Homo sapiens: one gene and its partners. The protein of the gene in region 1 interacts with the protein of each later gene in a biochemical or structural test. Each region holds a gene or a part of one and is shown in the gene's direction. Other genes may lie near its edges.

The links.
Region 2: of the proteins of LUC7L3 (region 1) and SRPK2, one has a biochemical effect on the other in vitro, tested with the Homo sapiens proteins (one study listed by BioGRID).
Region 3: of the proteins of LUC7L3 (region 1) and SRPK1, one has a biochemical effect on the other in vitro, tested with the Homo sapiens proteins (one study listed by BioGRID).
Region 4: of the proteins of LUC7L3 (region 1) and CLK1, one has a biochemical effect on the other in vitro, tested with the Homo sapiens proteins (one study listed by BioGRID).

The regions. Positions count from the first base shown.
Region 1 is NC_000017.11:50,714,014-50,722,602, forward strand, and holds the start of LUC7L3 (luc7-like protein 3), read left to right. Parts: upstream 1-5,589; 5' UTR 5,590-5,719; coding exon 5,720-5,818; intron 5,819-8,589. UniProt on the Homo sapiens protein: Binds cAMP regulatory element DNA sequence. May play a role in RNA splicing.
Region 2 is NC_000007.14:105,140,630-105,148,405, reverse strand, and holds part of SRPK2 (SRSF protein kinase 2), read left to right. Parts: intron 1-1,747; coding exon 1,748-1,913; intron 1,914-3,097; coding exon 3,098-3,123; intron 3,124-5,075; coding exon 5,076-5,322; intron 5,323-5,915; coding exon 5,916-6,398; intron 6,399-7,776. UniProt on the Homo sapiens protein: Serine/arginine-rich protein-specific kinase which specifically phosphorylates its substrates at serine residues located in regions rich in arginine/serine dipeptides, known as RS domains and is involved in the phosphorylation of SR splicing factors and the regulation of splicing.
Region 3 is NC_000006.12:35,868,323-35,876,098, reverse strand, and holds part of SRPK1 (SRSF protein kinase 1), read left to right. Parts: intron 1-1,759; coding exon 1,760-1,866; intron 1,867-3,370; coding exon 3,371-3,536; intron 3,537-5,139; coding exon 5,140-5,165; intron 5,166-5,604; coding exon 5,605-5,818; intron 5,819-6,197; coding exon 6,198-6,617; intron 6,618-6,988; coding exon 6,989-7,089; intron 7,090-7,776. UniProt on the Homo sapiens protein: Serine/arginine-rich protein-specific kinase which specifically phosphorylates its substrates at serine residues located in regions rich in arginine/serine dipeptides, known as RS domains and is involved in the phosphorylation of SR splicing factors and the regulation of splicing.
Region 4 is NC_000002.12:200,854,504-200,862,279, reverse strand, and holds part of CLK1 (dual specificity protein kinase CLK1), read left to right. Parts: intron 1-417; coding exon 418-578; intron 579-813; coding exon 814-1,042; exon of another isoform or gene 1,043-2,064; coding exon 2,065-2,155; exon of another isoform or gene 2,156-2,533; coding exon 2,534-2,600; intron 2,601-4,190; coding exon 4,191-4,307; intron 4,308-4,395; coding exon 4,396-4,562; intron 4,563-5,294; coding exon 5,295-5,389; intron 5,390-5,468; coding exon 5,469-5,598; intron 5,599-7,193; coding exon 7,194-7,276; intron 7,277-7,584; coding exon 7,585-7,664; intron 7,665-7,776. UniProt on the Homo sapiens protein: Dual specificity kinase acting on both serine/threonine and tyrosine-containing substrates.

The DNA.
Region 1 (8,589 bases):
GTCTTCCAAGTACTGGAAGCAGTAGCAGATGAAGTTGGAGAAGGGGGTCAGAGCACAGACCACCTTGTGGTGTTTGAACCTTAGAGTGGAGATGATGGGGAGCCATCGCCTCTAAGGTTGGAGGCGTTTTGTTTGTTGGTTTGTTTGTTTGTTTTTTGAGACCCAGGCTGGAATGCATGGTGCCATCTTGGCTCACTGCAGCCTCTGCCTCCTGGGCCTCCAGCAATCCTCCCACCTCAGCCTCCTGAGTAGCTGGGAATAGAGGCGCGTGCCACCATGCCCAGCTACTTTTTGTATTTGCAGTAGAGACAGGGTTTCGCCACATCACCAAGGCTGGTCTCAAGCTCTGGAGCTCAAGCAATCTACCAGCCTCGACCTCCCAAAGTGCTGAGGTGTGAGCCACTGCACCTGGCCAGTTGGAGCCTTTCGAGCAGGGATGAGACACATCTAGATTTACATTTAGAAAGGTGACTGATGGCTGGGCGTGGTGGCTCATGGCTGTAATACCTGCACTTTGGGAGGCTGAGGCGGGCGGATTGCCTGAGCTCAGGAGTTTGAGACCAGCCTGGGCAACATGGTGAAACCCTGTCTCCACTAAAGTACAAAAAAAAAAAAAACAAAAAAAACAGCTGGGCATGGCGGCGTGCATCTGTAGTCCCAGCTACTCAGGAGGCTGAGGCAGGACAATTGTTTGAACCTGGAAGGTAGAGGTTACAGTGAGCCGAGATCGTGCCACTGCACTCCAGCCTATGCAACAGAGTGAGACTCCGTCTCAAAAAAAAAGAAAGGTGACTGAGGCAGCAAGATAGATGGAGGATGGGGTCAAGGGGCCCGCACTGGAGGCTGGGAGGCTGGGAAGCAGTGAGAAGACCTGTAGTAACTGCAGCTTCCTTTCTATATTAGCTTGCTAGGGCTATCATAACAAAAATACCACAGACTAGATGCTTAAACAAATGAGATTTTTATTTTCTGGAGGCTATGAGTTTACGATCTGGGTGTTGGCAGGTTTGGTTTCTCTGGAGGCCTCTGTCTTTGGCTTGTAAATGGCCACCTTCTTACCATGTCCTCACGTGGCTTTTTCTCTGTGCAAGTGCATCCTTGGTGCCTCTTTGTGTATCCAAATTTCCTCGTATAAGGACGCCAGTATGATAGGATTATGGCCCAACCTAACAGCATTGTTTTAACTTCATCATCATCTTCAAATGCACGATCTCCCAATACAGTCACATTCTGTGGTTCCAGGAATTAGGCCTCAACATATGAGTTTGGAGGTGACAGGAACACAGTTCAGCCCATAACATTTTCTTCTTTTTTGAGATGGAGTCTCACTCTGTCACCCAGGACGGAGTGCAATGGCATGGTCTTAGCTCACTGCACTCTCTGCCTCCTGGGTTCAAGCAATTCTCCTGCCTCAGCCTCCCAAGTAGCTGGGAGAACAGGCACCTGCCACCACACCCGGCTAATTTTTTGTATTTTTAGTAGAGATGGGTTTCACTATGTTGGCCAGGCTGGTCTTGAACTCCTGATCCACCTGCCTTGGCCTCCCAAAGTGGTGGGATTACAGGCATGAGCCACTGTGCCCGAAGCCCGTAACATTTTCTATTAGTAACAGGTATGGAATGGGGTCTGGACACCACTAGCCGATAAGATTAAGTCATTTCCCATTCCATCATTGGGAAATAGCCAACTCCTGTAATCCATCAAAATTATCTGTAAAATGGGCTTTGTGACCTGTTAAGAAAGACTACTTTTACCTCTGGATCCCAAGACATAGCAGAGAATCTGATACAGATCACACTGGGGCTCACTGCATTAATGAAGGATGAATGAAGCAATTCATTATCTGTAGTGGTAATGCACACTGAACTGTGGCTTGTCCTCAGACTTTAGAAAAAAGAGAGTTGTAGAGTAAGACTTGCCTGGTGTATGACAGGGCCAGGCGCTCTCACCTCTGTGATTCAAAGGCATTTAATACTTTCTTTTTGAGACAGGGTGTCACTCCATTGCCCAGGCTGGAGTGCAGTGGTGCAACCATGTCTCACTGCAGCCTCGACTTCCTGGGCTCAAGTGATCCTCTTACCTCAGCCTCGTGAGTAGCTGGGACTACAGGGATGTACCACCACATCCAGCTAATTTTTTGTATTTTTTGCAGAGGCAGGATTTTGCTATGTTGCCCAGCTGGTCTCAAACTCCTGGGCTCAAGCAATCCGCCTGCCTCGGCCTCCCAAAGAGCTGGGATTACAGGTGTGAGCCACCATGGCTGGGCCAAGTATTTTCATTTCAAGACCAAATTGTAGTTGTGACATATTTGTCTCCCATAGGTCAGGAGCTCCTGGAGAACCAGGTTTTATACGTCTGTCTTTGTATTCCCAGCCAGTAACCCAGGTCCTGGCAAAGAGCACATGCACCATTATAGTTTGTGGAATGAATGAGATAATTAGATTAAGAACCTGTGATGGGCAGGAACTGTAATTTTGCAATCTGGTTGTGTGTTTGCGGTTCATGATGTGTGCAGTCCTGTTTGTTTGTGGTTCAGTTTTTTTTTTTTTAGACGGAGTCTCAGTCTGTCATCCAGGCTGGAGTACAGTGGTGCAATCTCGACGCACTGCAAGCTCCGCCTCCCGGGTTCATGCCATTCTCCTGCCTCAGCTTCTGGAGTAGCTGGAACTACAGGCGCCCGCCACCATGCCCGGCTAATTTTTTGTATTTTTAGTAGAGACGGGGTTTCACCGTGTTAGCCAGGATGGTCTTGATCTCCTGACCTCATGATCTGTCTGCCTCGGCCTCCCAAAGTGCTGGGATTGCAGGTGTGAGCCACTGTGGCCGGCCTTTTTTTTTTTGGTGGTAGTAACAGTGGAGAGCCCTCAATAAATGCTTCATTGGGAAAACTGTAACCAACAGCTGAGAACTGCCTCATCTCACTGCTAAATCTGTAAATTGATTTTCTTCTTTCTTGTTTCAGTGGAGAAGATCCTTTCTCCTATCAAAGGCCAGAGGTTTCAAATATGCCCTGGAGCCTAACCCATTACTTTTTTTTTTTTTTTAAGACACAGTCTCACTCACTCTGTTGCCCAGGCTGGAGTGCAGTGGCGCGACCTTGGCTCACTACAGCCTAAGTCTCTTGACAGTCCACTGTTTAAAGCGATGCTCCTGCCTCAGCTTCCCGAGTAGCTGAGATCACAGGCGCCACCACCACGCCTGGCTATCCTTTGTGTTTTTAGTAGAGACAGGGTTTCCCCATGTTGGCCAGGCTGGTCTCGAACCCATGACCTCAAATGACCCACCTCTGCCTCCCAAAGTGCTAGGATTCCAGGCGTGAGTCACCACGCCAGGACCCAACCCGTTACCTTTTTAAGATTTTAAGTCATTAACTATCCCCTTCTTTTATTTTCCACCTCTCTACTGGAATATCCCCAACATTAAACATTCTCTCATTTCCTACGTTTGGGGTTTTTTTTTTTTTGGTCTTTTCTTTTTTTTTCCTTTTTGTGGAGAATGGCGTCTTGTTATGTTGCCCAGGCAGGTCTTAAACTCCTGGCCTCAAGCTATCTCCCTGCCTCTGCCTCCCTAAAGTAGTGGGATTATGGCGTGAGCCACCATGTCTAGCCTCTAATTTCCTATCTTCAAAAAGGCTCCAGCCCCACTTGGTGGCTCACGCCTGTAATCCCAGCACTTTGGGAACTTTGGGAGGTCGAGGCAGGTGGATCACCTGAGGTCAGGAGTTTGAGATCAGCCTGGCCAACATGGCGAAACTCCGTCTCTACTAAAAGTACAAAAATTAGCTGGGCGTGGTGGCGGGTGCTTGTAATCCCAGCTACTCAGGAGGCTGCGGCAGGATAAACTTGAACCCGGGAGGCAGAGGTTGCAGTGAGCCAAGATGGTACCACTGCACTCCAGCCTGAGCGATAGCTCAAAAAAAAAAAAAAAAAAAAAAAAAGGCTTCATGTCCCATACCTCCTTTGAGTTCTCACCCTATTTTGCTGCTTTCCTTCTTAAAAAGAGGTGTCCACGACCGGGCGCGGTGGTTCACGCCTGTAATCCCAACACTTTGGGAGGCTGAGGTGGGTGGATTATTTGAGCTCAGGAGTTCAAGACCAGCCTGGGCAACTTGGCGAAACCCCGTCTCTACCAAAAATACAAAAACTTAGCCGGGCGTGGTGGCATGCGCCTGTAGTCCCAGCTACTGGGGAGGTTGAGGCGAGGGGGTCGCCTGAGCCCGGGAGGTTGAAGCTGCAGTGAGCTGAGATCGTGCCATTGCACTCCAGCCTGGGTGACAGGGCCAGACCCAGTCCCCCCAAAAATAAAAGTGTTGGGCTTGTTATCAATGTGTAGTGCCTTACATTGTATAAACTCATTTAATCTTCACAATAGCATCGTGGCTGGGGGCCGGGGGAGGACTATTGTAAACCCCATTTTACAGAAAAGGAAACAAAGGCACAGAGCGGCAGAGCTGGGATTACGAACCCAGGCAATCTGGCTTTAGAGACCATACCCTTAACTGTGCTAAAGCATTATCCCAACATACGTTGATATATTTGTGACTTTATTTCTTCAGCGATTATCTCCCCTCGCCAATGCACAGGTCTGCGGGAGCATGGACTGTCTGAAAGGTTCTGAGTTTAGCTTTAAGCACAGTGCCTGGCACATACCATTTGTTGAATAAATGGATCTACCTATCTATATATATGTGTGTGTGTGTGTGTGTATGTGTGTGTGTGTGTGTGTGTGTATATATATATATATATATATATATATTTTTTTTTTTTTTTTTTTTTTTTTTGAGATGGAGTTTTGCTCTTGTTGTCCAGACTGGAGTGCAATGGCGCGATCTCGGCTCACCGCGACCTCCGCCTCCCGGGTTCAAGCGATTCTCCAGCCTCAGCCCCCTGAGTAGTTGGGATTACAGGCATGCGCCACCACGCCAACCTAATTTTGTATTTTTAGTGGAGACGGGGTTTCTCCATGTTGGTCAGGCTGATCTCGAACTCCCGACCTCAGGTGATCCGCCCGCTTCGGCCTCCCAAAGTGCTGTGATTACAGGCGTGAGCCACCTCACCTGGCCTACTGGATCAATATCTTTTTAAAAAATTCCACACTGGGAGACATTTGGTGTAGGACTGAATCCCCGTATTTTAGAAGCCGCCTTGTCTCTTCTTGCCTCGATTTCCCATCCTGTTAATCAGGAGACTCAGGGCGGGAGGACAAAGCCAGGTGCAAGAGGCGTGAGCACAGCGACTAGGAAAATGGAGTCGGAAGCCGTAATCTTCAGTTTCCTCCGCTGCATGAGGCACCATGTGCACCACGTGGACTAAAGGAGACACTTTCTCCATTTTGAAGCGGTGTCCAGGCTTCAAGACCTAGGCTCCAATTTCTCACCGTGAAGAAGCTCGGGAAAACCGGGCGCTTGGGGAGGCGCGCGGGCAGAGGCTACCCGTCCCCGCGGCCTCTAGACAGGGGCGGAGTCCCTACCCGGCCTCCGCGGGCCCCGCCCCCGGACGGCGGAAGCCGAGCTCGCCCTCTCCGCCCGGGCCTGGGCGTGTCCCACGGGCGCACGGCATGCTGGGAAGGCGTCCGCGCGGCGGCCATTTTGTCTTGTCGGCTCCTGTGTGTAGGAGGGATTTCGGCCTGAGAGCGGGCCGAGGAGATTGGCGACGGTGTCGCCCGTGTTTTCGTTGGCGGGTGCCTGGGCTGGTGGGAACAGCCGCCCGAAGGAAGCACCATGATTTCGGCCGCGCAGTTGTTGGATGAGTTAATGGGCCGGGACCGAAACCTAGCCCCGGACGAGAAGCGCAGCAACGTGCGGTGGGACCACGAGAGCGTAAGTCCCGCGGGCCTTGGCCTGAGCCCGGGCTCCGTGGGGGAGGGGAGCGGGCGCGGGCTGTGGCCCTCCTGGCCGCGGCGCGATGTGGCCAGGGCCGCACCCGGGGTCGAGCGTCTGACCCGGTGCCCATGGAGCCAGGAGGGAGGATGCTGTCCGGACCCGGGGATGGGGGTGATTTGGTTTTGTTGTTCTAGTATCAAGGGGGTCCGGGAGAGCCCTTGGCATAATTGAAAAGCACCTTGATGAGGCGGGGAAACGCGGGAAAGAAGGATAGCAGCGTCTTATTAAATCTAGCGGCTCCGAGGTTTCACCTCATTATGAAATAGGGAGAAGGGCACATTTTTCTATAGTTTGGGTTGAACGTCGTATTTAGACTAAAATTTCTGACCAGGATTCATGGTAAAAATCGTGGCGGTATTTTATTTAAGTAATTACAGCATGACGCTTATACGGGGAAATAGAAATGTAAAAGAAGTCGTTTACTTGTTAGGGTTTACCGTGATGATTTACAAGTATTGTTCGTTAACAGTATTCTAAGAAGTCCCTTATAGAGGCAGCTGTCAAGGTTTTTTCTTCCACATAAAACTCATTTGATGCTCTTAGCCCGGGGAGTAAAGGTAAATATTATAACCCCAGTTTCACTGGTGAGACTTAAAAAGGCTCACCCAAAGTCTTGGCAACTGAGGAAACTAATCTTTGTAGTTCTGTTAGCTTTCCACAATCCTATGAAACTGGTTCTCTGCACCTACTGTAGCATTTCAAGTGTTTTGATCTAGTTTTGAACATGCAGTGTAATGTTTACTTTAGGTCTTATCTGGAGAATAGATACAGAATTTAATTTTACTTTGAGGTTATAATCTAACATGCTAATTTTAAAACAATTGCTAATCAAAATAGGAAGGAATAGTTCAGGTAATGCATGCTTCTTTAGAAAACTGTTTTCTTACTCTTTTTAAACGTAGGCTTTGGTTAAGGTAAAATTTCTTTTTTGCAGTGTAGGAAAGCAAGTTGGTGCTAGATGACTCCTTTTAGGACTTTAAGAAAGAGTAAGTTTGGCTCAAGTTGTGTTGGGGTGCTAACTGATTCCAAAGTAGTATGAAACATTCTTAGAGTAGAATTTATTGTTTTTAAGAGGTGGGTTTTTTGTTTTTAACATTTAGGCTCCCCATCCCCCCGACCATTTGTCACAATAGGAGACTAAGGAACTGCTTACCTTGACCATCTTTCTTTTGTAGGCATCTTTGTTATAGCGAAGTAACTTTTTTTTTTTTTAACTACCTGACTCTGTAACCTTTCAGTCTAAACTTTGCAAATGTGTTAGGAATAACGCTCAAAATCCTAAGTAAGGTAAAAAACCAAAACATTATGGCGATTTGGCTTATGTTCAATAGGTTATTTGTATATTTTGAATTCAAGAGAAAAATGCTTTCCATTGCACTCCTTATCAGTTGGAACAGCCTTGTATCTCTGCACCCTTGACTTTGAACACGTTTTAGAGAAACTGTTTTCTTTCCCGGGGTAATTTGTTGCCACATTGCATTGTATGTGATGGGTTTATGACTCTTCAATGATGAGGCCCTCAGAATAGCAATTTAGGTTTTATGTCATCTCAGCCGTAATCTGCTTTGCTTTCAGTTTTAGTACTTTTCACTAATTTTAACTTTCAGTGTTTATTACTAAAGTATTTAATGCCTTAATGACAGATTGCACTTCACTCTAGATTGAAGGATTTCAAGTCAGTTACTGGCATTTCAGATTGATATCTGCAGGGAAAATGTTGGTAGTGTTGAGCAAAAACAAAGCACATGGTCTCATCTAAATAGGTGGAATTATTGTATAATGAAGCTGGGGAAGCTGTTGATATCGTTTCCGGGTCATCTGCATATTCTTGTACTGTTGGCTGTTAGTGCTAAACCTGCAGGGATGGGCAAACCCATTATATGCTGAAAAGGAGTCACCTTTTCTATAGCCTAATATTTTAACATATTTTTGCATTCCTGTTCTATCTGGAAATTTTTCTTGGCCATACTTGCATTAAATGGAAGAAGCCATTTCAGCTGGATGGGGCCCTTGTTTTTTTTTTTGGAATAGAGATAAATACCAAAATAAGGAAAGGAAGCAACCATTAATTAAAAGACAGTTGCCGTGGCATCTGTAAGTATTTAACAGTCAAAATGCTAACTTTACCTAGTATTAAAGGTAGTCCCTAGATAGCTGTATTTGACCTGTGGAATTTGTTTTAAATGCATATTTCTGTACTTCAACCCCTTCAACTCCCCTTCCCAGAGAGTCAGATTCTGTCTGTCTTGGGGAAGGGTCCCAGTATCTGCATTTTTTATGGCTCCTCTTATGCATTCTTTTTTTTTTTTTTTTTTTTTTTTGAGACGGCGTCTTGCTCTGTCTCCCAGGCTGGAGTGCAATGGCGTGATTTTGGCTCATTGCACCCTCCGCCTCCCGGGTTCAAGCGATTCTCCTGCTTCAGCCTCCCCAGTAGCTGGAACTACAGGCGCCCTCCACCACGCCCAGCTAATTTTTATATTTTTAATAGAGATGGGGTTTCACCATGTTGGCCAGGATGGTCTCGATCTATTGACCTCGTGATCTGCCCGCCTCGGCCTCCCAAAGTGCTGGGATTACAGGCGCGAGCCACCGCGCCCGGCCGGCTCCTCTTATGCATTCTAAAGTTTGTGACCTACTGTTTCCTGACCCATCCTGATTAGTCCTGGGCTTTTAATTGTGCATATCTGCACAATTAAATCTTAATTGGT
Region 2 (7,776 bases), on another chromosome or scaffold:
ACACTGTAAGTTTTTGATTGTTTTAATATGAGAAATATGAATATCTTGGTTCATCACTTTCTTTTAGTATAATGCTGTAGGGTTGTCTAGATACCAAGGCTATTTTCTATTTAAATCAAGCCCCCCTTCTCTTGCAGTGTTAAAAATGTATGGACATCATTAGCCATCAGGGAAATGTAGATCAAAACTACAACAAGATACTTCATATCCACTTGGGTGGATAAAGTAAAAAACGATAGTAAGTGTTGTTCAGGGCGAAGAATTGGAACCCTCATACATTGGTGATAGGAATGTAAAATGGTGCAGCCACTGTGGAAGACACTTTGGCAGTTCATCAAAAAGCTAAATATAGAGGCACCATATGACCTAAGTACGGTAACTCCTAGGTATATACCTCCCCTCAAAAAAAGTATGTTCACACAAAAATGTATACACGAGTGTGAATAGCAGTATTATTTTTATAGCCCCTAAAGTGAAAATAACCCAAATGTTCATGAGGTGAAGGGATAAACACAATGTTGTATCTCCATACAGTGGAATACTGTTTGCCAATAAGAATAAGCGAAGTACTAATACATGCTGCACAAGAGTCAAACTTGAAAACATTATGCCAGTTACAAAAAAATACTTTATATGATTCCATTTATAGGAAATGTCCAGAATCAGCAAGTAGATTAGTGGTTGCTAAGGGTTAGAAGGGGTAGGAGAGAGATGGGAAGTGAATGCTGATGAATATGTTGTTTCTTTTTGGAGCAATGAAAATGTTGTCATTTAAATAGTGGTGGTAGTTGCCGTGTGTGGTGGCTCACGCCTGTAATCCCAGTACTTTGGGAGGTCGAGACAGGTGGATCACAAGGTCAGGAGTTCGAGACCACTGGCCAATATGGTAAAACCCCGTCTCTACTAAAAATACAAAAAAAATTAGCCAGGCGTGGTGGCATACGCCTGTAATCCCAGCTGCTTGGGAGGCTGAGGCAGGAGAATTGCTTGAACCTGGGAGGCGGAGGTTGCAGTGAGCCAAGATTGTGCCACTGCACTCCAGCCTGGGTGACAGAGCGAGACTCTGTCTCAAAAAATAAATACATAAAAAATTTAAAAAATAAATAGTAATGATAGTCGCACATCTAAAATCCATTGAATTGTATACCTAAAGGGGTCAATTGTATGATACATGAATTACTAGCCTACTGTTGATCAGAATCCTTAATGATCACATGACCAATTAACATGTATTTTGTATGTGTGTTATATAGCATATTTTTACAACAAAGTAAGCTAGAGAAAAGAATGTTAAGACAATCATAAAGAAGAGAAAATATACTTACTATTCATTAAGTGGATAGATCATATGAAGTAGATGATCATAAAGGTCTTCATCCTCATTATCTTCGCGTTGAGTAGGCTGAGGGGTTGGTCTTGCTGTCTCAGGAGTGGCAGAGGTGGAAGACAATCTGTGTATAAGGGAACCCATGCAGTTCAAACCTGTGTTGTTCAAGGTTCAACTGTATGTAGATGCATTTGCTTCCACGAGCATAAATAATCTCTGAAATTATACACACTGGTTGCTTATGGAAAGGAGAGCTGGATTCCAATGTGGGTAGGCATGGGAGGGAGATTTTTACTAAATATCCTTTTGTGTTTATCAAACTTTGTACCCTGGCATTGTATTACATGTTTTTCAAATAAATAAAAGTTATATAATGAGATATTAATAGCTTATCTTCTCTCTTGATTTTACTATATCCAGGTCCTTCAAGGGTTAGATTACTTACACAGTAAGTGCAAGATCATTCATACTGACATAAAGCCGGAAAATATCTTGATGTGTGTGGATGATGCATATGTGAGAAGAATGGCAGCTGAGGCCACTGAGTGGCAGAAAGCAGGTGCTCCTCCTCCTTCAGGGTCTGCAGGTGAGGGAGCTGAGCCAGCTTCATTTCAGTGTGGGGGCATTGGGAGCTTGCAAAGTTGCAGTTGTTGAAGGTATCTGAATCAAACGTTACACATAAGGAAGATTTTGGAAAAGTTTAATTGCTGGAAATAACTGCACCCTTGAAATGGAAAATGCCCCAGCTACATTATATTTTAATATTGGAAGTATTTACTTTTGTCCCCCTTTAAAAGGCCATTTAAATTTGTAGTTGCTGCTTCATCTATATTTGAACAGTTTTTTCTGTTGCCAGCTTCTCTGCAGAGGAGAACATAGTAACAGCTTTCCTGTAGCTGACCTTTAGTCATCAGAATATTTTTCTGGCTTCAATTTTGTGTACATAAATTCTTGTTGTCCATTTAGCATAGCTATGTCAACCTGAGTTGTATCAACAGATTTGGAGTTAGTTAGAAAAGGCCTGATGGTGGGGGAAGAAGATCAAGTGACCTGAGTATTGGGATATCTTTATTTCTGGGGCGGGGTCGGGGAGGTGGTGCAGTGAAGTGTGGACTGTGCTTCTCACTCTTCGACACCATGATCTGTGCCTTTGTGTGTTGTCAGGCAAGCATGGATACTAAAGGGCTGAGGCTCCTGGGACTGCCTGGGGCTCTCTTCACATCTCCTTTACTGCCATCAGGGTGTTGTTTAGATCATGGACCCAGCCTGTTAAGCTTTTGACCCTGGTGTAGGGGTTTAATCATGTGATTCCTAGACTATTTGCTGCATACCAACTGCAGTATTTGATTTAAATTATAGAAAGCTTGCAAAATAGATTCCAAATATCGATGTACATCTACATTGTTCATTTCATTATATTTTAAACAAATTTGGTTTAATGACTGTGATATGTATTCTTTTCCATTTTCTTAAGTGATCTGTTGGTGCTTGAGCTTGACTGTGTTTGAGATGTATTAGTATTTCATTTTAGATAAATAAGAGAAATGGCTCAGTATGAGTAACTTCTGCTGTGACTTCAGGAGTCACTCATTTGTTTCAGTGGCATAAACTTACTCTAGATCCTTGTGATTAAGAAGCTCTGATTAATAGTTTTTGAAGTTGGATAGCCATTAAAAGACAATAATTATTTCACTTTGCAATTCGAATGACCTACATGAAGGCATGTGTCTGTTTTCTGCTAAATACAGATTTTGTTTGATTTTATTTTAGTGAGTACGGCTCCACAGCAGAAACCTGTAAGTACTTACGCATATTACTTTATATGCACCATGTTAAAAGAGACCGTTTATTATTGAGTTGTTCAAATTATAAAAAAGTTGTGTATTTAAAGGGTAGACACATTTATAAAAGCTGTGTATCCTCAAATAGGTAAGACTTAATGTCTTGTTAATTTTTTTTTTTTTTTTTTTTGAAAACTGAGTTTCACTCTGTTGCTCAGGCTGGAGTGCAAGTGGTGCGATCTCGGCTCACTGCAACCTCCCCCTCCCTGGTTCAAACGATTCTTGTGCCTCAGCCTCCCGAGTAGCTGGGATTACAGGCACCTGCCACCGCACCCAACTAATTTTTGTATTTTTAGTAGAGAGGGGTTTCACCATGTTGGCCAGACTGGTCTCGAACTCTTAACCTCAAGTTATCTGCCTGCCTCGGCCTCCCAAATTTCTGGGATTACAGGTTTGAACCACCACGCCCAGCCTGTCTTGTTAAGTTTTAATGATCTGTGCAGAGTTGGGATAGTTAGAGCCTTTCAAAAATTGTCTTCTTTATGCATTTTCTGGACTATGGTGGCCAAGTTTAGTGAAATGTGAGGTGATGGAGTTGAAGTATTTTTATTTCAAAACCACTTTACATTATTTCTGATTGGCTGCTAAGTTACCTGTTTTTCTGAAGCTGTTGTTCTAATTTTTTCCATGCGGATGTTAAATAAGAAAGAGACTGATCTATTTTGTGGTCCTGTCAAAACACTATGTCCTTATTAGATACTGGGTGTGGTGACTCACGCCTGTAATCCCTGCACTTTGGGAGGCTGAGGCCACTAGATCACTTGAAGTCAGGAATTCAAGACCAGCCTGGCCAACATGGTGAAATCCTGTCTCTACCAAAAATGCAAAAACTAGCTGAGTGTGCTGGTGGACGTCTGTAATCCCGGCTACTCAGGAGGCTAAGGCAGTAGAATCACTTGAGCCCAGGAGGTAACGGTTGCAGTGAGCTGAGATCACGCCACTGCACTCCAGCCTGGGCGACAGAGTGAGACTCCATCTCAAAAAAAAAAAAAAAAATTAGCCGGGTGTGATGGTGTGCACCTGTAGTCCTAGCTACATGGGAGGCTGAGGCATGAGAATCACTTGAACTCAAGAAGTGGAGGTTGCAGTCAGCTGAGATCACGCCACTGCACTCCAGCCTGGGCAACAGAGACTCTGTCTCAAAGAAAACAACAACAACAACAACAAAACACTATTTTTACTGAGACAGCTCTTGATTTGGAATGTAAGTTCTGGAACAAGAGGGAGCTTTAATAATTAAGCTTCCTGGCCTGCTGAGAAGCTCAAGTTGTTTCCCATAGTTCTTCCCTGGCTTGAGCTGCTTGAATTTACTGATTGATTGAAAGGTTGGAGGCTGTCATTGCCAGTGCTTTGCAAGTCAGGTAACCATGACGGGAGGCAGACAAAAGCTGTAGCTTTTTCTTTTTTCCCTTTGCAGCATAGGCTTATCTCTTACAGTTCATGTTGTCTTGGCTGCTAAGAGCTTCATATGTGAGACCCAAACACACAGTGACATACACCTGCTCGGGCACCTGTTTCATTTTTGGCATTGAGGAGCTGGGATGTTGTTACTTTGTATATAGACAGCAGCAAATAAAACTTGCAAGAGGAGCTTCTCCTTTAAGGCCAAGAGAATTTCGAACTTCAGTTCTCTTAGAGTTTGAATGGTGAAGACTTACTGGATTTAAGCTATATCCCTCTGAGGGCAGGACCTGGTAGTAGACCTAGTACGTGATATCAGTCAGCACTGCTTTCCCTTTGATTTTATCGTAAGCCTTACCACAAAGTGGATCTGTCTGGGTTTGGGATTTTAATAGAATATGGCATGAGAAAGCAGAGTTTATTGCTATTTGCCATGCTGCTAGTCGTTATACTATCGTGGTGCTTTAAAAAGAAGAATACTGACCTGTGGTCTTTCCTTAACATAGATAGGAAAAATATCTAAAAACAAAAAGAAAAAACTGAAAAAGAAACAGAAGAGGCAGGCTGAGTTATTGGAGAAGCGCCTGCAGGAGATAGAAGAATTGGAGCGAGAAGCTGAAAGGAAAATAATAGAAGAAAACATCACCTCAGCTGCACCTTCCAATGACCAGGATGGCGAATACTGCCCAGAGGTGAAACTAAAAACAACAGGATTAGAGGAGGCGGCTGAGGCAGAGACTGCAAAGGACAATGGTCAGTGGGGCCTGGAACCTGGGCTGCATGGGGTTCTCAGAGCTCCATTAGTAGGGTTCTGCCAGGTCAACATGGGGGCTGATTTGTGCTGCTGCTGCAGATGACAAGGATGATTCTCTCCAACTCCCTATTGGGAAATATGGGAAATAGCCTCGTACTTCATTTGTGAACTGTATGCCAGAAATATGTTAACATTTCAAAATAGTTTTTAAAAATGTAAAATAATTGAGAAATTCCATGTTTCTATCATGCTAATGATGGTGCTTTATTTTGTCATTAACTTTTTACCTAACTGTAATGCACCACAAGTCTGTTTCTGAAGATTATAGAGGGTAGAAATGGAAGTGCAACTTTATTTAGAAAGAGTTATTTTCCCTTAAAGCTAACTTTTTCTTATAAGAGCAGGCCAATTACTAAATGAATGAAAAATGAGATTTAGAAAACCTGAAGGTTTTACCCCAAAAGCCAAGAGGTGTTTACCAGGTGGTACATAAGCATATTCAAAATGTATTTTATTGATGGAGATAAGTACTTAATGAGGCTGTATTAAGGAGAGTAACAAGTTCTAATTCTTGACCCATCAAATTCTTAAGGTGAAGCTGAGGACCAGGAAGAGAAAGAAGATGCTGAGAAAGAAAACATTGAAAAAGATGAAGATGATGTAGATCAGGAACTTGCGAACATAGACCCTACGTGGATAGAATCACCTAAAACCAATGGCCATATTGAGAATGGCCCATTCTCACTGGAGCAGCAACTGGACGATGAAGATGATGATGAAGAAGACTGCCCAAATCCTGAGGAATATAATCTTGATGAGCCAAATGCAGAAAGTGATTACACATATAGCAGCTCCTATGAACAATTCAATGGTGAATTGCCAAATGGACGACATAAAATTCCCGAGTCACAGTTCCCAGAGTTTTCCACCTCGTTGTTCTCTGGATCCTTAGAACCTGTGGCCTGCGGCTCTGTGCTTTCTGAGGGATCACCACTTACTGAGCAAGAGGAGAGCAGTCCATCCCATGACAGAAGCAGAACGGTTTCAGCCTCCAGTACTGGGGATTTGCCAAAAGGTAAGTGTTTCTTCCCATCAACTGTCTGCCATCGCTGACTCCAGGGACGTGCCTTTAACAAATGCTGTGAAGGAATTGGCTGGAAGTGGCCAAGCCCTGTGTGTGTGTACTGATCAGTTTTATTACTTTTATACTCCTGAAGAAGTAATGTGATTTAAATAAATTTTCTATGCCATTAGGCTATTTCTTGCTCTCTGCATACCAAATCTTATTTCTGACCAGTTTTCATTTTTAATATATTTAGTCAGCAGCATCATTTGCAAAAACCTTCCAGTTTTAGCAACTTACACCTTTCTAGAATGTGTAGTTTAGTTTAAAATTCGTATCTTCTTCCATCTAATGTCATTATATTTAGTTTAGTTTAGTTTTGTTTTGTTTCTATTCAAGAAAATTATGCCTCCTCTTTGACTCTATTGAGAAAGAAGTGTCATATTGTCTTTTGATAGTTGTTCCTGATTATAGGACCCTACTATTGGTAACTGGCCCAGGATTGTAATTTTCAAGGAATTGGCATGGATTTAAATGTGATGACAGATTATAGATTGGCTCTTGTGTTCTTGTCTACCTAAGAAGGCTTGACTTATTCAAAGCCTTATTTTGGGAGTGAATGCCAAGTGACTCTAGTAAGTGAAAACTGGGTAACACAGCTGGTTTCCATACTGGCTTATGGGGGAAAAGCTCTGAAACCTCCCTCTGCTCCCTCTACTGACAAGACTGTTTAACACACAGCGAGTAAAATTGATGAGCCAGCCCTGCAAACAGCCCGACATTCTGCAGCCCCTTTGGTTCCAGCAGTCTGGAATTGCACGCCGAGTAAGCTGGCTTTGTTACGCACTGGCTATGATGAATCCTCCTAAGGATTTGCTTTCTTTACTTGGCTGGACGTGGTCAGCTCCTGTTCCCCTTTCCAGGGAGTGTTTGAAGGTGCTTACATAGAATGTAGGTTAATTTCTGGGAAAGGGCAGTAGTGAGAGGTACCTTATCCAGACTTATTGTTGCTGTTGCAGTTCAATTTTTCTCTTACTTGAAGTTTCTTTTTTTTTTTATGAGATTGAGTCTTGCTCTGTCACCCAGGCTGTAGTGCAGTGGCGCGATCTCGGCTCACTGCAACCTCTGCCTCCCGGGTTCAAGCGATTCTCCCGCCCCAGCCTCCTGAGTAGCTGGGATTATAGGCGCGTGCCACCATGCCCGGCTAATTTTTGTATTTTTAGTAGAGACAGGGTTTCACCATGTTGGTCAGGCTGGTCTCAAATTCCTGACCTCGTGATCCACCCGCCTCAGCTTCCCAAAGTGCTGGGATTACAGGCGTGAGCCACCGCGCCCGGCTGAAGTTTCATATAGAAAGTAATTTACAAAGTACCTTTTTAATTATTTCTAT
Region 3 (7,776 bases), on another chromosome or scaffold:
TTTTTTTTTTTTTAATTTAAGAATCCAGGCTAGTTGTTTTATGCCACCTTAGTTTGGATTTGTTTGATTGTTTCCTCATGATTAAATTCAGGTTAACCGTGTTTGTCAAGCATAGTACATGGATTATTGCATTAGAATATGCATTCGAATGCATATTAGTATATTGCATTAGAAGGCACATGGTGTGAATTTGTGCTTATCATTGGTGGTAGTAAGTTTGATCACTTGGTTAAGGCAGTGCCTTCCAGATTTCCCAGTTGTAAAGGTACTTTGTTCTTTTTGTAATTAATAAGCAATCTGTGGAATGATATTTTGACACTGTGACAATCCTTTTTCCCGACAGTCTTTCACATAGTTGTTTTAGTATTCACTGATTCTTACCTGAATCAGTAATAGTATACTATAGTGATTGTAAAAATGGTGATTTTCTATTTCTGTAATCCCTTATGTATTTATTATTTGGCTTTCTTCTCTAAAGAAGATGTTTCTCTTCCTCCTGCCTCCACACTTACTTTCAGATCAGTGTGGACTTGTTCTGTTTTTAATTCATATATTAACTCATAATTTTATCCTTTATAGTGGTCTGGCCGGGCGCAGTGGCTCACGCTTGTAATCCCAGCACTTTGGGAGGCCAAGGCAGGTAGATTATGAGGTCAGGAGTTCAAGACCAGCCTGGCCAATATGGTGAAACCCCATCTGTACTAAAAATACAAAAATTAGCCCAGCGTGGTGGTACACACCTGTAGTGCCGAGAGGCAGAGGTTGCAGTGAGCTGAGATAGTGCCACTGCACTCCAGCCTGGGCAACAGAGCCAAGACTCTGTCTCAAAAAAAAAAAAAAAAAAGAAGTCTCCATGTTGGCTGGTGACATCCTTTTCAAGATGGTTCCTGTTTCTTCCTGACAGGTTCTTTTATTTGTTAGAACAGCAAGGTGTTCCAAGTTTACCCTGTTATTTTTCCTACCTTGGATTTGGCCATTTTTCCAAGGAGCTCAGGCTTTCCTTTAATGGAGAATGTTAAAGTCTGAGCACTAGACCATTACTATATATGTATGTCTTAACTTGCATGTAGAAGCCAGTGGGGGTGGAAGACATCAAGATACTACTAAAATCTCTGTAGTGCCCTGCACAATTTTAGACTCAGAGTATTCCTGCTGTGTGGTGTCATCAGGTTGTTCATACATAAGGACAACACATGGTGGCACTGGAATCAAGATTAGTTTTGTAAAATACAGAGCATTAAGCAAGTTTCCTATTTAAAAAAAAATGTTGGCATTTACGTTTTTGAGGTTTAAGTCTTTCTTGTACATTCATCTCTTCTATAGTTAAGGAATAATTTGTTTTTCCTTGCTTTGAAGCTGTGAGAGTGGGAATTTTTACCCTGGACACCAATTTTGATATTAGGGAAGAAACTAATTTACCTGAAGCTAATCAACAGCTTGAGGCTTGAGCCTACTGCTTTCTTTCACTATTTGCATATGTAGGTTTCACTTTTTCTTTTACCATTGAGTATTTTAATGTACATAATAATATTGATGAAGCCAGCCGCCCACAATTTAATGTTTCATGAATGCTTTCATTGACTATAGCATTAGACTTTGAAATTTTAGAATATTAACAGCTACATATTTATTCATTCAAGCTCTGTAACTTTTTATACTGAAAGAAAATAATACATAACATTTAATAGGGTGGAATTCACAGCTTGTCTTGCCGTGTTCTTCTTTTGTGCCGTTTTTTCCCTCCTTAATGAATTCCTAGATATCTGCATGGTATTTGAAGTTTTGGGGCATCATCTGCTCAAGTGGATCATCAAATCCAATTATCAGGGGCTTCCACTGCCTTGTGTCAAAAAAATTATTCAGCAAGTATGTATCTTGAATCAGCAAGTATCTTAGTCTTGACTATGTAGTGATTTTTTAATATTCTTGAAGTGTCAGGACTTTATTTTTTCCAATAGAATTTTTGTTTTAAGGCCGGGTGTGGTGGCTCATTCCTGTAATCCCAGCACTTTGGGAGGCCGAGGCGGGCAGATCACGAGGTCAGGAGATCAAGACCATCCTGGCTAACATGGTGAAACCTCCTCTCTACTCAAAATACAAAAAGTTAGCCGGGTGTCTTGGCAGGCACCTGTAGTCCCAAGCTACTCGGGAGGCTGAGGCAGGAGAATGGCGTGAACCCAGGAGGCGGAGCTTGCGGTGAGCCGAGATCACACCACTGCACTCCAGCCTGGGCGACAGAGCGAGACTCCGTCTCAAAAAAAAAAAAGAATTTTTGTTTTAAAATTCTTTGTTTTAAAAAGTAAGTTATTGGCTGGGCGCGGTGGCTCACGCCTGTAATCCCAGCACTTTGGGAGGCCGAGGCGGGCAGATCACCTGAGGTCAGGAGCTCGAGACCAGCCTGGCCAACAGTGCGAAACCCCGTCTCTACTAAAAATACAAAAATTAGCCGGGTGTGGTGGTAAGCGCCTATAATCCCAGCTACTCGGCAGGCTGAGGCAGGAGAATCGCTTGAACCCGGGAGGCGGAGGTTGCAGTGAGCTGAGATCGCGCCACCGCGCTCCAGCCTGGGCGACAGAGCAAGACTCCATCTCAAAAAAAAAAAAAAAGTTAATTGCTAAAATTAAATATTTCATTCAACCTTTAGAATTTATTGTGCTTATTCTCTTTTTAAATGTTTTAGCATAACCATTTTCCCCCAGGTTTGCCTCCTATAATAATTAGAAAGGGAAGCTGAGGTTCCTGACTTGGGAACATTGGAGCCCTTATCCAGAAGTTCTGGTTGCAAATAGTAATTTTACATGAATAGATAATTGCTATGTCAGATTATTGCCATCTCTTTATACAGCATGATTCATAGGCATTTTCTAATTTTCTAAAGAGCCTTCAATATACAGTATAGATTTTACCATCAGGAAAATATTAATACTTCAAGGTGCAAAAATTTGTTTGGATTATATGTCCTGGAAAGAGCTCCAAACTGGGCAGCAAGAGACCTCAATTCTTCCTCAGTGAGGAAATTTGAATTAAAGATATCTAAATGTCTGTCAGCACCTACATTACAACACTTAGAGGGTGTGTGTGTGTTGAAGTTTATTCTCAGTCTTTGCATTGTACATAGTTGAAGAATATCTCCAAATAGAATCAGCTTTGTAAAACATTGAAGAATTTTTTATTGTAAATAATTTCTTGCCTTTTTCATAGTTTAATCTTTCTGAGAAAGTTTATTTGTGCTTTTTTAAAAGGTGCTTTTATTCTCTATAGAAAACGCTATCATATCTTTTTTTTTTTTTTAATGTCATGTTATAATCTCTTACTTCTCCAGAAAGCCTGTATTTTGTGTTTGCAAGTCTGCCACTCTATTTCCATTCAGGTGTTACAGGGTCTTGATTATTTACATACCAAGTGCCGTATCATCCACACTGACATTAAACCAGAGAACATCTTATTGTCAGTGAATGAGCAGTACATTCGGAGGCTGGCTGCAGAAGCAACAGAATGGCAGCGATCTGGAGCTCCTCCGCCTTCCGGATCTGCAGGTGTATTTTCTTTTAGGGACTTCGCTATCATTAGAAGTTAAAAAGAAATTTCTATTTTTATTCTGTTACCAGGGAATTAAACACCACTCAATCCATTTCAACAATAACATATTTAAGAAACATTATCAGCTTCCAAGAGACATTCTCACTGTTACTTCCATAGGGGAAGGAGAAAACTAGATATTGTGTCTTTGTGTTGTATGTTATAAAAGCTGGTGTGTATTGTTTAAAAATATTTTTTCTTATGAGTTGATGATTTTTGAAGTGTTTACCTCTAACTGTGATCACACATGCTCATTTATAGGACTGGTAGTCTGTAGAGGGACAAGATAACATTGCTATTAATAGTTTAGGTTTAAACACTGGAGTAGACAGACTTGGTTTGAATTTGGGCTTCATCCTAGACTGAGAAACCTTAGCTGAGTTATTTTACTTTATTTTCCCTCAACTGCGAATTATTGGGATTAAATGGTAAAGCAGTTAGTAGTGTGCCACACAATATTATATACCAAATAAATTGCGGGACCAGGCACAGTGGCTCATGCCTGTAACGCAACACTTTGGGAGGTTGAGGTGGGTGGATGATTTGGGCCCAGAAGTTTGAGACCAGCCTAGGCAACACAGTAAGACCCTGTCTCTACAAAAATTAAAAAAATTAGCCAGGCATAGTGATGCGTGCCTGTAGTCCATTTACTCAGGAGGCTGGGGCAGGATGATTGCTTGAGCCTAGGAAGTCAAGGCTGCCACGAGTTGTGATAGTACCACTGCACTCGAGCATAGGCAACAAAGTGAGACCCTGTCTAAGACATAAAATTAAATAAATAAATAAAGGCTGCTTTATGATTTTTTTTCTTTTGAGATACAGATTTTAGTTTTAGTAGTGTGTCATTTTTTAGGAACTTGCTTGATCCTCAAGTTGAGTTATTAGTTATACACTTCTTTAAAAAGGAAGACTAAAGAAGGGGGAAATGGGGAGTTGGTTGTTAAATGGATGTAGTTTCTGTTTTACAAGATGAAAACATTCTACAGATCCTGTTATACAACAGTGTGAATAGTGTTAAAACCACTGAATGTACACTTATCTAGAGTATAAATTTTTATTATGTGTTTTTTGTTAACCACAGTTATTATACTAATATTTTAAAAAGAGGAAGACTGAAGATCCTACCTTCCAGCTAAGCTACACTGTTATCCATGACATGCTGTAGAGCAAATTACTATAGCTCTTGATGTCACCTAGACTCCCCTTTTAAAACTGACAGATTCTGGGTAGCATTTGAGGTGAAGAGGTTGTTGCTTGTCCCATTCTATTTTAAGCAGTGCATGGGAATGGAAAATAGGTGATTTTTAGCAACTTTAGTTTACCTGGGGAGGAAGAATTTTATTTATCCCTTTTTTTTAAGTTTGGCAATTTCTATTCATTATTTTCTTTAAAAATGGTAATAATATAGCTTCTACTTAAGTCATTTAAAAACAATAGTTTTCTCTGCAATGTAGACTACATAAGAAAGACTTTTCATTCTGGTAGAGTGTTTTATCTGAGCCTTAGTTTATATTGCCTGATGAATGCCAGAATTCTTACTTGGTTTTCTTTTCTTTTCAGTCAGTACTGCTCCCCAGCCTAAACCAGTAAGTATAAGGTGTTTTTATATTTAATTTTGATCTATGGACTATGGGCATGGGTTCTTCTGTTGTGGATGGTAACAGTTTGTTTCAAGTTTGAGAACCAAAAGGAAAAAAAATTCCTGCGCTTCTATAATTTTCTCCAGTAAATTCCCATGCACCTTCATCACATTTGTACTGGTGAGGCCTCTAAAAAATTCGAGTTTGTCTGAATGTAAACCAACCCCACGGACTGCTCAGAAGACCACACTTTGTTATTTATTCTGTTTTTATTTGGGTTTATAAGAGTATCCCGCATCTTTTAATTTAATGAAAGACTTAAGTGCTATGTTAGGGAAAGATTTGTGAAATTTAATTAGGAAGTAATTAAAGTTAACAACTATCTCCAACTGGGGGTAATTAATTAGCCACCTGAAGGCTTTATCTGTTTGTAATCTCCGCCCAGGCTGACAAAATGTCAAAGAATAAGAAGAAGAAATTGAAGAAGAAGCAGAAGCGCCAGGCAGAATTACTAGAGAAGCGAATGCAGGAAATTGAGGAAATGGAGAAAGAGTCGGGCCCTGGGCAAAAAAGACCAAACAAGCAAGAAGAATCAGAGAGTCCTGTTGAAAGACCCTTGAAAGAGAACCCACCTAATAAAATGACCCAAGAAAAACTTGGTATAAATAGAACATCACGAAAATTACTGTACAACACACTTTAACGTTAATTTATCATTGCTATATAATACAGTGGTTTCATACATACAACACATCTCTGGGGGTATCTTTATAAGAATATGGATCTTGTCATAAATGTTAGGCAGGTAATATTTAAATGTAATTTGTAACTTTTCTCAGGAAATGGAACATAGATTTCATTTAACAATTGGGTAAAAGTAAGATCTTGGCCCTTCCGGAAATAGGTTTTAGATGTTTAGTCATGTTTTTATGTCACTCAGTATAAGTTCTAGAAAATGTTTTAATCTTGTGAGAAATGTTTCTGTTCTTTCACTCACACACATATGCATATATCTTTTTTTGTTCGTTTGTTCCTTAGAAGAGTCAAGTACCATTGGCCAGGATCAAACGCTTATGGAACGTGATACAGAGGGTGGTGCAGCAGAAATTAATTGCAATGGAGTGATTGAAGTCATTAATTATACTCAGAACAGTAATAATGAAACATTGAGACATAAAGAGGATCTACATAATGCTAATGACTGTGATGTCCAAAATTTGAATCAGGAATCTAGTTTCCTAAGCTCCCAAAATGGAGACAGCAGCACATCTCAAGAAACAGACTCTTGTACACCTATAACATCTGAGGTGTCAGACACCATGGTGTGCCAGTCTTCCTCAACTGTAGGTCAGTCATTCAGTGAACAACACATTAGCCAACTTCAAGAAAGCATTCGGGCAGAGATACCCTGTGAAGATGAACAAGAGCAAGAACATAACGGACCACTGGACAACAAAGGTACCTATGCAGCTATACTTCCTCAACACTCCTTCCCTGCACAACACATTCACAGATTTCTAGACTAAAAGTATGATTGTTTTTGTAACTATAGCTTTACAACAGGTGTGTCTAAGTTACGTTTAAATTGTAATCTGTAGCTAACTTTATCCATCATGTACTGAGTACACAGCACTTCATTTGTTGCTGTGAGGGCAGAGGTTTTTAATTCTGGAAACTCAAGGCGTTGCTGTGCTCTTTTTGTCTCAGAAAATGTAAGTTGTCACTTGGGTATTGCTGACTGTATTACTCTTACCTTGGAGAGCTTTATTACTCATTGAGTATTTCTCTGTTCATTGAACAGTCTTATTGATGATGCCTGTTGTCTGTAGGAAAATCCACGGCTGGAAATTTTCTTGTTAATCCCCTTGAGCCAAAAAATGCAGAAAAGCTCAAGGTGAAGATTGCTGACCTTGGAAATGCTTGTTGGGTGGTAAGTTAAACTTGCCTTAATGGTGTTTTGAAGTGACTGGGAGGATGAATGAGAATTTGGACTTAGTTATGCAAAACATCCATAATTCTGTACCCAGATTGATACAACACTTCAGTGAATATTTTTTTACATTTAAAAAAACCTTTTACTATGGAAAAGTTTAAATATACTTACGAAAGTAGAATGGTAATCGTGATCATGAAAAGTCCTTCTGTTACCCCACCCCACTCCAGATACCCATCACCCAGATTCAGTAATGTCAACTCCTGGCCAATCTTGTTTTTAATATATATATCATTATTAACTTTCAGACACTCAGTGCCTATGTTCATACTCCCCTACTCCCATTTTCAAAATTGATGACTAACTTATAAATTGTAACCTCCTTTTAATTCACTTAACATATTTTGGACACTTTGCTTTGTCAGCCAGAAATTTAAATACAATTCAGTTCATTACATTGTTTCCCTAGTACACTTTAATCTACATATTTTTGACAGCTCTTTGTGATGAGACTCTGCACGCAAATCTTTGTATAGTTTTTCTTAGGACATGTCCTAGACATAGAATTGCTAAGTCAGAAGTTCTGTGATTTTTAAAAGGGCTTTATGATGTATAGTGTCATTTAACTTATTTTTAGTTATTCGTAATGACATGTAATTAGAAATAATTATATGTTTTTTGATG
Region 4 (7,776 bases), on another chromosome or scaffold:
CATCTGGATGTATACGTGCAGGTCACTGGGGATATGATGGCTTAGCTTGGGCTCAGAGGCCTGACAGCGTGGACTTCTATAGTGCTATATTTGTACTACTGGGAGGGCAGGGGTAAAATGTACCAAAATTAGTAAATTGTGATTCCTCCCTCTACTTTTTTCACTTTTTTTTTTTTTTGCATTCTTCCAATAAATCTGGGCATGATATGGCTAATGCAGAGTGCCTGTGAATGAAGTTCAAACTGCAGAATATGGGACAACACAGTAATTGGATTTATCAGTGATTTCAGATTGGGTGATAATGATTCTTGAATTTTGGTCTTAAAACGAGGTCACGAGGGGACCTTTGTAATTACGAATTTTAAACAGCTCAGTGTGGGGTACAATTTAACTAGGAAAAACTTGCCTTTTATGTAGATGAGACACTCAAAGAGAACTTACTGTCCTGATTGGGATGACAAGGATTGGGATTATGGAAAATGGAGGAGCAGCAGCAGTCATAAAAGAAGGAAGAGATCACATAGCAGTGCCCAGGAGAACAAGCGCTGCAAATACAATCACTCTAAAATGTGTGATAGGTAAGGAGGATACTTAAAATGTCTGAATATAACAATACATTACTAGACAAAACTAGTATCACTTAAAATAAGTACCTGATTACTACCATTCGTTTGTTTCCAATGAGAGATTTTGATGGTTTGTAATGTTTGTAAAATTAAGCTGCTTGTGGGGGAGTCTAGGTGCTGTCTTGAAGAGAATGTGAGGATATTTGGTCTTAGCATAAAACATTGAAAATAATTTTTATTTCTCTAGCCATTATTTGGAAAGCAGGTCTATAAATGAGAAAGATTATCATAGTCGACGCTACATTGATGAGTACAGAAATGACTACACTCAAGGATGTGAACCTGGACATCGCCAAAGAGACCATGAAAGCCGGTATCAGAACCATAGTAGCAAGTCTTCTGGTAGAAGTGGAAGAAGTAGTTATAAAAGCAAACACAGGATTCACCACAGTACTTCACATCGTCGTTCACATGGGGTATGAACGTTTTTAAAACATTTTGGAAATTTTATATCCCATGTGGAACAGGGAAACTTGAATTTTTGTGTTTGATTATTTGAGAAAGTTTTAAGATGAAATCATCTCAGTTTTAACCTGCAGGATTTTTTCTGTGTTTGTGCATTGGATAGGAAATTCCGGAAATAAAGTACACATTTAGTTCTATAATTTAATTATTGGTTGGCTCCTAATTGACATTCCAGTGAAATGATGGGAGTTAATTGATTTAATTTAGATTAGTTGAAAATTATTACAAAATATTCTAAAAGGGTTTTTTGTGGTACTTCAAGAAACCTGATTAGTTTTGATCTATTGAAATCACAAAAGTAGAACAGGGCATTTTATTTTTGTATAATTTAGGATTAGGTATGCTTCTTTGTTCTAACAAGTCATGTTTTCTAACCCTTCTTTCACTAAGCAAACCAGAACAGATTTGAACTGTTATGGGTTATATATTAGTATGGAGATCAGCTCAGATGACATTAAAAATGCCGTAGTGTTATTCTTGTATGCCAAATCTTTTTTTCCCCAAAATTAGCACTTTAATTTTATTTACTGTTATAATATTTGTTTTCTTAGATTAGGTAGGAAATCTTAATTTGGCCACCGCCTACTTTGACAAGTAAATATTACATCATACGATTTTGCAACATTAAATTAGAACACTAGAAACTAAAAAATTATGTTTCAGTGAATGCTACAACTAAGCATTTTTTTTTTTTAAGAAAAACAATTGTATTATGTTTTGTTGCCTTGCCACTTTGAGTATCTTATCTGAAAATCTGTTCCTTGCCATGTTTTTCTCCTGTTAACATAAACTATGTGCCCTGTGAATTTCTGGGGACTGAATTTGAAATTGCTCCTGCCAACCGTTTGTGGCCTGGCGTGTATCTGAATGCCTGAATATCTCCCCGCTGAATGAATTTCGTATTCTGCCCTGAATTCACTCGGGTATATTGATTGGCTGGATGATCTTGGTGCCGCCCACTTGACGTTTCCAGAAGAGTCACCGAAGGAAAAGAACCAGGAGTGTAGAGGATGATGAGGAGGGTCACCTGATCTGTCAGAGTGGAGACGTACTAAGTGCAAGATGTATAGAATATTTTTCAACACTTATTAACTTTTCAGATAACATAATCTATATATAGATTAAGCTTTCAGGGATTTGGAAATCTTTTTTTCTTTCTCTTTTTTGTTTTTGTTTTATTTTTCCATTTCTTTTGGTGGGGGGGATTGTATTTTTGCTTTCTTTAGAAATGTAATGTTTGTTATATAGAACTTCCAGAACAGTAATCAAATTAATGAAATTAGACCTAATAATTATGTTTTTTGATGGTGTTGACCAATAAAATATCTAGTGATAAGGAAATTTGTAGCATCAACTAGAATAATCTACATTGATAGCATTTATTGTGATAAGTACATTGTTTCCACTTCTTGATATGACTGAGATTTATTTCTCTCTTTTAGATGAAATTGTTGATACTTTAGGTGAAGGAGCTTTTGGAAAAGTTGTGGAGTGCATCGATCATAAAGCGTAAGTTTCCCATGTTGGGATTACTTTTAGGGAAGTTGGCAATACAGGTAATTGATTTAGCTTTAGAAAGTGGTCTGACCATGAGTTAGATACATATCTTTATACCCTTTTTTACTTGGATGTAAGACACTTCCAGTTAAGAGGTACTTGCCCCTTCATATTTTTTAAACAGCTACTAATAGTATGTATAATTTCTAATTTTAGGCTGAGAACACACTTTATATTGTTTTGAAAGTATTGTTTTGTTGTTCAACTGGACACTGTTGTTAGGCCATATTTTTTTCCCCCACCATATTAGTGGTTCTCAGCCTTGGTTTTATGTTAAGATCCTCCTCGAGAGGTTTGCCTACCCCAGACCTTTTCAGGGTAGTTACCTAGGAATCTATATTTTTAGGAAGTGCTGTAATTCATTCTGATAACATAGCTGGAGATAACTTGGTGTCCCAAGTTTAATTATGTATGTTTATCAAACTACTGATTGAAATTTTTTTTTTTCTCGAGACAGAGTCTCGCTCTGTCACCCAGGGTGGAGTGCAGTGGCGCAATCTCAGCTCACTGCACCCTCTGCCTCCCGGGTTCAGGTGATTGTTCTGCCTCAGCCTCCTGAGTAGCTGGAACTACAGACACGCGCCACCATGCCCAGCTATTGTTTGTATTAGTATTGTATTGTTTGTATTAGTAGAGACTATGTTGGCCAGGCTGGTCTCGAACTCCTGACCTCAGGTGACCTGCCCACCTCAGCCTCCCAAAGTGCTGGGATTACAGGCATGAGCGCTTGGCTCCAGCCATGAAATTTCTTAAGATAGTATAGAATTTTTTCCGTTACTCTTTTTTTTTAGTTCCCTGTTTGTTGTTGTTGTTGTTGTTGTTGTTATTGTTCTTCCTCTTCCTGAATGGCAAAGCATTTTTGAGGGGGCTTCCTACTATTGATTGGTAAGGACATGAGAGCTAGAGCTCTTTTTTTGTTTATTTTTCTTTTCCCTGAGATGGAGTCTTGGTCTGTCGCCCAGGCTGGAGTGCAGTGGTGCAATCTTGGCTCACTGCAACCTCCACCTTCCGAGTTCAAGTAATTCTCCTGCCTCAGCCTCCCAGGAAGCTGGGATTACAGGCACACACCACCGTGCCTGGCTAATTTTCATATTTTTGGTAGAAATAGGGTTTCACCATGTTGGTCAGGCTGGTCTCGAACTTCTGACCTCAAGTGATTTACTACCCTCGGCCTCCCAAAGTGCTGGGATTATAGGCGTGAGAGCCACTGCTCCCGGTCCTAGAGCTCTTTACTCTTTCCCCACTGTATCCTAACTCTTTTGGCAACCTGGACTAAAAGAACATTTGAGATAATGTTTGACAGTGACAGGTACCATATAGGAAGAAGTTGTTTAGCTGAAATACCAAAAAATAACTCATGTGAGTGGTGGTTTGATGAAAGAAATTTGTGTCATTCAGCATGTAATAGAATCAGAACTGAACACTAAACCATAAATTAAAAAAATACAGTGGGTCAGAGTAGTAGTACAGTTTGAAGACAGTAATACCTGGAATTGAGCATCATGTCTGTCATTCTTAAATTTGCATGCATCTTTCTAACAGGGGAGGTAGACATGTAGCAGTAAAAATAGTTAAAAATGTGGATAGATACTGTGAAGCTGCTCGCTCAGAAATACAAGTTCTGGAACATCTGAATACAACAGACCCCAACAGTACTTTGTAAGTATCAGATTAGAACTTGGGAAGTGGTATCAGGTATATTTAAATTAGGAGCAACTATACTTAGCTATTTTTCATGTGTTTGTAGCCGCTGTGTCCAGATGTTGGAATGGTTTGAGCATCATGGTCACATTTGCATTGTTTTTGAACTATTGGGACTTAGTACTTACGACTTCATTAAAGAAAATGGTTTTCTACCATTTCGACTGGATCATATCAGAAAGATGGCATATCAGATATGCAAGTCTGTGAATTGTAAGTTCTTGGTATATCTTCGTTAATTTGCTGGTTTTATCCATTCCACATATCAAAATGTGCATCCTAAGTGTGTACAATTTTTATTTGATTAAAAATAAAGGGGGAGGAAGAATAGGTATGAAGAGATTTGATTACAGGCTGTTGATCCAGCAGTGTACATTTCATTCAGCAAGTAGGATATCCACCATATAACAACGTACTTTGTTGCAGACTATGATTTAGACTTTTCTGATGCGCAAAAATAGTAACTTCGAATGCTGGGTAAAAATTAAGGCGTGATATATCTCATAAAAGAAAGCTTCATAAGAGGTAGTAAGTTTTAGTTACTGGTGATTTTCTAGCAGACTGGAATGTTGACCATTCTTTGGGAAAGGAATCAGAGGTTTTTTGTTGGGTTTTTTTGTTTTTTGAAATGGAGTCTCGCTTTGTTGTTCAGGCTGAAGTGCAGTGGCGCAGTCTTCACTCACTGCAAACTCTGCCTCCCCAGTTCAAGTGATTCTCCTGCCTCAGCCTCCCGAGTAGCTAGGACTACAGGCACACGCCACCACACCCGGCCAATTTTTGTAATTTTGGTAGAGACAGGGTTTCACCATATTGGTCAGGCTGGTCTCGAACTCCTGACCTCAGGTGATTACAGGCGTGAGCCACTGCACCCGGCCTGTTGTGGGGTTTTGTGATTTGGTTTGGTTTGGTGTTTTCTGATTACAGCAACTTTCTCTTTATTCTCAGTTTTGCACAGTAATAAGTTGACTCACACAGACTTAAAGCCTGAAAACATCTTATTTGTGCAGTCTGACTACACAGAGGCGTATAATCCCAAAATAGTAAGTCTTCCAAAATATTCATAAAGTATCTTATGCCTTAATAGCTTATGCCTTCTTAACCATCATTTATGATTTTCAGAAACGTGATGAACGCACCTTAATAAATCCAGATATTAAAGTTGTAGACTTTGGTAGTGCAACATATGATGACGAACATCACAGTACATTGGTATCTACAAGACATTATAGAGCACCTGAAGTTATTTTAGGTGAGTATTAATTGTCCTTTGAGAACCTTTGTATTTCCTTATTGAGACTTAAAATTTTTTTAGCAGTTTTAGGTCTTACTTGTGGGGCTTTATCATATTCTCTTTAAGGGATAAGTATCATGAAGTGCATTATGGATTTTAAGCTCTCAATTGTACCAGATAATTAGCTCTGGGAATTTGAGCAAGTGGCTTAACCTTTCTGGAATTGTTTTCACATTTGTAATATGTGGTAGGGTTTTTAAATGTAATTGTTTAATGCCAGGTGGGGCGCGGTGGCTCACATCTGTAATCTCAGCACTTTGGGAGGCCAAGGGTGGGGCGCGGTGGCTCACATCTGTAATCCCAGCACTTTGGGAGGCCAAGGCGGGCAGACCACATGGTCAGGAAATCGAGACCATCCTGGCTAATATGGTGAAACCCCATCTCTACTAAAAATACAAAAAATTAGCTGGGTGTGGTGGTACACGTCAGTAGTTCCAGCTACTCAGGAGGCTGAGGCAGAATTGCTTGAACACCGGGAGGCGGAGGTTGCAGTGAGCCAAGATTGCGCCACTGCACTCCGGCCTGGGCGACAGAGCGAGACTCCATCTCAGAAAATTGTTTAATGCCTATTTTATTCCAGACTATATATAACACTATATAATTTATTTATTTTTATCATTTATTTATTTTTTAGACGGAGACTTACTCTGTCGCCCAGGCTGGAGTGCAGTGGTGCAATCTTGGCTCACTGCAACTTCTGCCTCCTGGGTTCAAGCAATTCTCCTGCCTCAGCCTCCTGAGTAGCTGGGATTATAGGCACCCACCACCACACCCGGTTAATTTTCTTATTTTTGGTAGAGATGGGGTTTTTACCATGTTGGCAGGCTGGTCTCAAACTGCTGACCTGGAGCAATCTGCCTGCCTTGGCTTTGCAAAGTGCTGGGATTACAGGCATAAGCCACTGCGCCCGGCCATATATATTGTATTTAACCTTGGATTAAGTGATTGCTTTAGGATCTTCCAGCTCAAACATCACATTGCATATATATGTGTATATATATAATTTTTTGGGGGGGGGGCGGAGTCTTGCTCTGTCACCCAGGCTAGAGTGCAGTGGCGCGATCTCGGCTCACCGCAAGCTCCGCCTATGGGGTTCACTCCATTGTCCCACCTCAGCCTCCTGAGTAGCTGGGACTACAGGTGCCTGCCACCATGCCTGGCTAATTTTGTTTTTGTATTTTTAGTAGAGACGGAGTTTCACCGTGTAGTCAGGATGGTCTTGATCTCCTGCCCTCGTGTTCCACCTGCCTCAGCCTCCCAAAGGGCTGGGATTATGCCTGTAGCGTGAGCCACTGTGCCCGGCCAATTCAGATATATATATATCTTAATAGAGGTGGGATCTCGCTGTGTTGCCCAGGCTGGTCTTGAACTCCTGAGCTCAAGCAGTTCTCCCATCTTGGCCTCCCAAAGTGCTGGGATTACAGGTGTGAGCCACTGTGCCCAGCCTACATTACATGTGTTTTTTTTTTTAAAGTATTAGTGTTAACTAACTTTTTAATTTCTTTAACAAACATTGAGTATTTTTTTTCCTTAAATTTTGCTTTGCTTTGCAGCCCTAGGGTGGTCCCAACCATGTGATGTCTGGAGCATAGGATGCATTCTTATTGAATACTATCTTGGGTTTACCGTATTTCCAGTAAGTGACAATGATCTATTTCAACCTTGCTTTGCACAAGAAAGGTGCCTGTTTATATGAATAAATACTTTTGCTTCCCCCATTATAGACTATTAATTGTAGATAAGCATAAATAAACTAATTCATATTTCTTTCATAATTGTTTTATTTAAAACATCTTTCAGTATATAAGCAATTATCCGTGTCCATGTAGGGAATCATTGGCGAGTTTGTTCTGCAAGCCTTAATGTTAGTTTTTTTGCTGTCAGCTTTAACTGTGTCTGTTTTGGTGGTCATCTTCCCCAAGTCTGTTTTTATTTTATTTCTAGACACACGATAGTAAGGAGCATTTAGCAATGATGGAAAGGATTCTTGGACCTCTACCAAAACATATGATACAGAAAACCAGGTACGTTTTAAGAGTTAGTGACATCCTTAGTATCATTTGATCACATCTGCTGATTAGAACTTAATTTTTTTTTTTTTTTTGAGATGGAGTCTTGCTCTGTTGCCCAGGCTGG